2 separate regions of the Homo sapiens genome follow, and region 1 is reported to be linked to region 2. Evidence: microRNA targets listed by miRTarBase, many of them from high-throughput screens and not tested one by one. Region 2 holds a microRNA gene; the other region holds the end of a gene's coding sequence.

Region 1 (3,079 bases), not on the chromosome of region 2:
GCCTTTGTTTGTGCTGGTGCAGACCCAAGGAAGGGATTCGGTGTGGAGACATCTCTCCCTCCTAATGTACCTTCTTCACTCTTGCTATTCTCATGATGTCCTGCACTGCCCTCTCCACAAAATCTATGAAGCAAGCAGGAGATATTGTGTAAACGGTCCTCCCCTGGAATGTGGTGTTCAGGACTACATACTAAAAATAAGCAGAGGCTTTGGTACCAGAGTGTTCCCAGAAGACAGTCACCATGAGGATGAGGGGATTGGAAACCAAGTCAACATAATTATATTATACTATATAATGTGCAATGAATGCCTGTTATACGACATGCACTGTTTCTAAGAAACTTATCTCATTTAATCCTCATAGCACCCTAATAAGGATGGTTCTATTTTACCCTCATTTTACAGATGAGGAAATTAAGGCATAAAGCTTAAGTAACTGTACAGTGTCACACAGGTAGATTTGACAAAGCACATCTTAGCCTATGCCTTTTAGTTGAAGGAAATGAGGACAAGTAAGTATAGGAAAGCCATACAGCTATCTTTAAATTTCAAAGAGTTATATGGAAGAAATTATAAATTTGCACTTTAGGTGCTCCAAGTCTGCAGGTGAGGGTCATTAATAAATAGATTTCTAGTTAATACATGGAATAACTTTCCAGAGAATGAAGTGTTTCTTAAAAAGGAGTAAGTGATCTCGAGAGGTAGTGAGTTACTATTTAAGGGATTCAAACAGGGACTGGATGGTCCTGATGAAGATGCTGGCGAGGATATTCAGGTATTTAATTGGTGGTTTGGATTAGTCACCCTTAAGGACCCCAAAGGCCTTGAGATAATAGTAAATGATTCACTTTCTAATTTCCAGCAGGGTGGGGTTGTGTATTATGGGTAAAGTGGCTATATCAAATAAATTCCAGGTTGTCAACATTACAGAAACAGTCATGGCAGGTTTGAAGAGTTAATTCATAATAAGGAAAGTTGATAAAAAATACTTTGAATCCAGCGACAGAAAAATTTGGATAGATTTTTGACAAAAAGCAGCAGCTGTGTGCATGACAGATGCCGTGTAGTGCAGTAGCTAAGGGCATGGATTCTAGAGCCAGCCCCATGGGTTCAAATCCAAATTTACTAATTTCACATTTACTAGTTGTGTGACCTCAGGCAAGTTACCTAGCCTCCTTAAACTTCAGTTTCCTTACCTGTAAACTACTGTGTTAAACACTATCTAATTTTGAATCCCTGTTGGGGGGTATATGTAGATGAGATCATCTTTAGAACAAAGACTGCGACATAGTGAGTAATAAATATTTGCTAGTATTATTCCAAAGAATGTTCATGACATTTTCGACATTCAAACACTATAAAAGGTAAATCATTTTTATTGCCACAAATTGATAAATTGTTGTGAAAAAAAGAGAAACTGGCACACATGAAATAACACAAACATAAGAAGATATAAGACCAAAATAGATTTGAATTATGTCTCCCAGGCTGGATTGCAGTGGGGCGATCTCAGCTCACTGCAACCTCTGCCTCCCAGGTTCAAGCAATTCTCATGCCTCAGCCTCCAAGTAGCTGGGATTACAGGCATGCACCACCATGCCTGGATAATTTTTGTATTTTATTTAGTAGAGATGGGGTTTTGCCATGTTGGCCAGGCTGGCCTTGAACTCTTGACCCAAGTGATCTGCCCGCCCTGGCCTCCCAAAGTGCTGGGATTATAGGTGTCAGCCTGTGCCCCTGGCCTAAACTCTGACTTTTGAAAAGGTTTTCTAAAACTTTATTTTTAAACAATCAACAATAAGTATTTCACTGTGCACCTATTAGTATGTCTAACACAATGCTAAGTAAGGGGAATTATGAGAAGATTATAAGCTTATCACGTGATCTTGTCTTTAAATAGTTTATAACCTAGCTACCTATGATTATGAAGACACATTTTAAAAATTCTAGGACCTAATATCTTTTTTTTTTTTTTTTGAGATGGAGTCTCACTCTGTCACCCAGGCTGAAGTGCAATGGCCTGATCTCGGCTCACTGCAAGCTCCGCCTCCTGGGTTCAAGCGATTCTCCTGCCTCAGCCTCCCGAGTAGCTGGGATTACAGGCACCCGCCATCATGCCCGGCTAATTTTTGTATTTTGGTAGAGACAGGGTTTCACCATGTTGGTCAGGCTGGTCTTGAACTGCTGACCTCAGGTGATCCGCCCGCCTCGGCCTCCCAAAGTGCTGGGATTGCAGGTGTGAGTCACTTCGCCTGGCCAGACCTAATATCTTTAAGTAAAAATCATCTTTGAAAGTAATCACTTTGGATAGTTAAACATTTATTTCAATAATGCTACCATTGCTCAAAACATTCTTTACATCTTTTCTTTGGGATTGCCTTTGGAGTCATTGTATAAATCATTAAAAAAAGCAGACTCATTGCTTTAGTTTAGTGTTGCTCTATCATCCTCAAGTATCTAGCTTAGTCACTTGAATTATTCACTAGCTTTGGGTCTCAGTGACTTCTGATTATTTTAAAGTGTCAAATTCACCCTCAAAGACAAGTTTGGCTATTCTTCATGATCTTCAAAGGAATGCACCACAGCATGATTGGACAGTAAGTTCTTGGAGAACAAGGTGCCTCTCTCGCTTCTCTTTGCATCTCTGGTAGAGTCTGTTGCAGTGCTTAACCACAGCAGGAGCTCAATATGCACACACTTGTGGGCTGGAAGGGAAGGGGCTGCAGCACCTCAGCTGCTCAGCAGCTGGAGATAGCAGGGCATGGTGAGGATGAAGGTGAGGAACGGTTCCAGGTCAGGCTTGAGGGCAACTTTTTCCTGTTCGATTATTTCAGGGTTTTCTTTCACTACTCCTTAGAAGTCTGGCTTTGACAGCGAAGGACAGAAAGGTCTGCCTGAAGCTGGCAGCAGATTCTCCCAATACTCCCTTCGAGCCCTGTGTTTCAATATATACATAATTAATTAATTAAAAGTCTTACCTATAAGTCCAATATGTCATATATGTATATATGTATGTATATGTATATAACCACACACACACACACACACACACACACACACACACACACAGTCAAAACTT
Region 2 (3,000 bases):
TTTTTTTAATGTGTAAATTTACTCCTATATCCCTGGGTCCGTGTAATTAGCAGCATTGATGCACATTATTGTGAGGGCCCTGGACAGTTTGAGCAAAGTTTGAACTTGAAGTGAGGGCGGAAGTAAGTTCCAGAGGCCCTGCCTCTGCCCTCTGTTTTGTTCACCTCAGGGCAGCCTCTGCAAGTGGAAAACAGGCAGCAACGAAGGCTGGGAGATAGTCCCGCCATTGGTCCGCGCTGCAGCTTGTTCTGGCAGCGAGTTTAGTTCAGGAAATTTGCTGAGAATTTGTTTTCACAGCAAGCCTCATATTTTTGTTGCAAATTGTGTGGCGTAAGCTTACCAAATGTTTCCTCTGACAGGACAAGAAAAGACCTGCAGCACCTTGTAGTGAGAGGCTTTGAGGGCCTGGCAAGTCTGAAATGTGCTGTGTTCTGGGTTATGTGTGTGTCCACCCTGGGATTGGGGTCATGGAAAGCGCCTAAGGGAGGCCTCAGTGTCCACCTGGACACTGGAAACATGGACTTCTGGAAAAGCTCCAGAGCAGGGGCTTTTTTCTGTTACCTTTTTTGGTCAGAAAAGATACTCTTTTTTTCTCCAGTAGTTTTGTTAACGTGAAAATTTAGGCTGGTAAAGCAAAACAATATTATAAGAATATCTAAAATTTAACATGCACGTAAAATTAGATTTCATGGAACATTAGCCCTAGAGACTTTAGACAAATGGTTCCGTACTGGGGGGATGGTTTTGCCCCCCAGGGGACATGTGGCAATGTCTGGAGACATTTTTAGTTGTCACAACTGGTGGTGCGGGCAGCGGTGCTACTGGCATTAGTGGGTAGAGGCCAGGATGCTTTGAAACAGCCTTCAGTGATGCACAGGCCAGCCCACGACGAAAAATTATCTGGCCCAAAGTGTTGGTAGTGCCAAGGCCAAGAAACCCTGCTTTGGTTCCTGGGTGTAGGGACGTGTATGTTCTTAAACAAGAGCCCCTCCCGCCTGCATTGTGGTGGATGATGGCTGCCTTTTCATTGAGTGCGGGCTGTGTGCCAAGCGAGTTACCTCCATGCTTTTCTTTAATCCTTACAACTTTTGAGGTACGTGTGGTTTTTTTTTTCTTACTTTTTCACCTCTCCCCAAGTTGTCTGCAGATGTGTGTTTTTATCTTCATTTTACAGATGAGGAACCCGAAGCGTAGAGGGTTAAGTAATTTGCTTGAGGGGACCCAGAGTGGGAGATGATGGGCTCGGATTCAGGCCCAAGGCCATCCCCCTCCCAGTGCCTGCTCAACTCCACAGCATGTGCTGAGTCCACACACCAGGATTCAAATCCCTGCTCCACTTCCCAGCTGTGCAACCTGAGCAAGTTACTTCACTGCCTCCTGCCTCAGTTTCCACACCTGAAAACTGGGGACAGGAAGGGCTGTGTGGAGCAGGCCAAATTTTGCGATGAAGCATCTGGGTCTGTGGGTTGCACAGCGGACAGCGCAGGGCCATTTCTTTGCCCTCATACGGAGCAGGGCAACGAGCAGCACATCCCGCTTTGATGCCGAGGGTGAGGAGAGGGCAGGAGACCACTGACAGCGTGCTGGGCACAGAGTCTGGCACACAGTGCTCAGTCCCCGCAAGCGGTCACTTCTGTTACCTGTTTGATCTGCTCTTCAGGAGCTGGGTCTCCACCTTTTTCAGGAACACACTGTGTGAAAAGCAAGCCATGCTTGTGTCGGGAAAGCCCAGTGGGTCCAATCTATGTCATCAAGTTTTAGACTTCAGTCCCTCTCTCTTTTTGTCTTCCCCTTTTGCAGACACCTTGGAAGAGCTTAAGGAAATAGATAAAGGCATGTGGAAGAAACTGCAGGAGAAGTTTGCCCCCAAGGGTCCTGAGGAGGATCATAAGGCCTGAGCTCAGGCCTTACCTCGTGCACATACCTAGGTGTGGAGTCTTGTACATTGCCATCGTCAATAAAACTGCCCCAGTTTCCCCTTGACCTTACGGTTTGGGAATCTCCTCTAGCTTTCCCAGAAAGGAAGCCCTTGCTGCTCTAAAGAAAGTTTCAGCCTGAGAAGGGATGGTGATTGAGCTATCTGCTGTGACTGCTGCTCAGGGTAGGGAAATCTCCTGGGGAGAGGAAATGCAGGTTTCCCTCTGGGCCTGATGAGGGTAATGGGGCCTCGGCACAAGGTGCTTCCTGCATTGCCACGGGAGCCCCCGCCCCTCTGGCACGGGTCTGGTGTCTCCTGGCAAGATACTCAGGCTCCCTTTTGTTGTAGGAGCTCCTGGGAGGAAGCCAAAAATAGCAGTAAATACTGAAAAGGGCATCCTGTTGCAAACAGAAAGCAGTAGGGAGGTGTGAGGCCGAGAGAGGCAAAAAGCCTGCTTGGCCCTCATCCCCACTGACTCAGAGAAGGATGGACCTTAGGCCTCTATCCCTGACCTTGCAAAAACCCACATTGCCCAGTTGGCTTAAGGGACAGGGAAGCTATAGACAGGCCTTGGCCAAGCGGGGCCTCAGCTGCAGTTGGCTTCAGCACTGTGGGCAGGTTCTGTAGGTGGCCACAAGTCAGAGGCCCTGCTGGCTGAGGACACACACAGGGTCACCTCATTATTCCATGGAACCTTGGCTCTTACTGATATTGAGCATCCTTCTCTCTGGAACCGTGAGGGACAGGGCTGGGCCCACAGCGGCCCTGGTGGGTACAAAGTGGAAGTGGGTTCTTAACCTCGTCTGTGTCTAGACTCCTCAGGATGTTCTGAAATGCATAAAATAAAATCGACAGGACTGCCGTAGAAACCAGTTATGCCGAAATGCAGTTCTGGGTAGGCAAATCTCAGGGGAGGACCCTTGAGACAGGATGTCACTCAGCGTATCTCCTGAGAGCCTGAGAGGCCAGGCCAGCAGGGAGGGGCTCTTGTTCCTGTCTTCTGCCAGTGTGTCCTGTTAATCCCCACAGCCCCCGGGGGAGTGCAGGAAACACATCCCTTTTTAACGGACTAGATTTCTATT

The links. The annotated mature microRNA hsa-miR-3934-5p reads UCAGGUGUGGAAACUGAGGCAG and lies in region 2 at 1,378-1,399, opposite strand. An mRNA with a match to its seed (bases 2 to 7 or 8) in the 3' UTR can be bound and repressed. Matches are read on the target gene's strand: a 7mer-m8 pairs with bases 2 to 8, a 7mer-A1 pairs with bases 2 to 7 and ends in A, and an 8mer does both.
Region 1: the mRNA of BHMT2 is a reported target of hsa-miR-3934-5p. Seed matches in the 3' UTR shown: 7mer-m8 at 2,234-2,240 and 7mer-A1 at 2,191-2,197.

The regions. Positions count from the first base shown.
Region 1 is chr5:79,088,349-79,091,427 of GRCh38, reverse strand. BHMT2 (betaine--homocysteine S-methyltransferase 2) reads right to left here. Exons shown (of 8, transcript NM_017614.5): 8 at 1,359-2,935. The coding sequence ends at 2,854. Among named protein-coding and RNA genes, the nearest start is that of BHMT2, 20 kb to the right of the region's middle.
Region 2 is chr6:33,696,551-33,699,550 of GRCh38, reverse strand. It overlaps MIR3934 (microRNA 3934), which reads right to left and starts at 1,423; the gene lies at 1,317-1,423. It overlaps ITPR3 (inositol 1,4,5-trisphosphate receptor type 3), which reads right to left. Exons shown (of 58, transcript NM_002224.4): 58 at 2,989-3,000. UQCC2 (ubiquinol-cytochrome c reductase complex assembly factor 2) reads left to right here. Exons shown (of 4, transcript NM_032340.4): 4 at 1,801-2,787. The coding sequence ends at 1,898. RefSeq lists an enhancer at 1,020-1,995.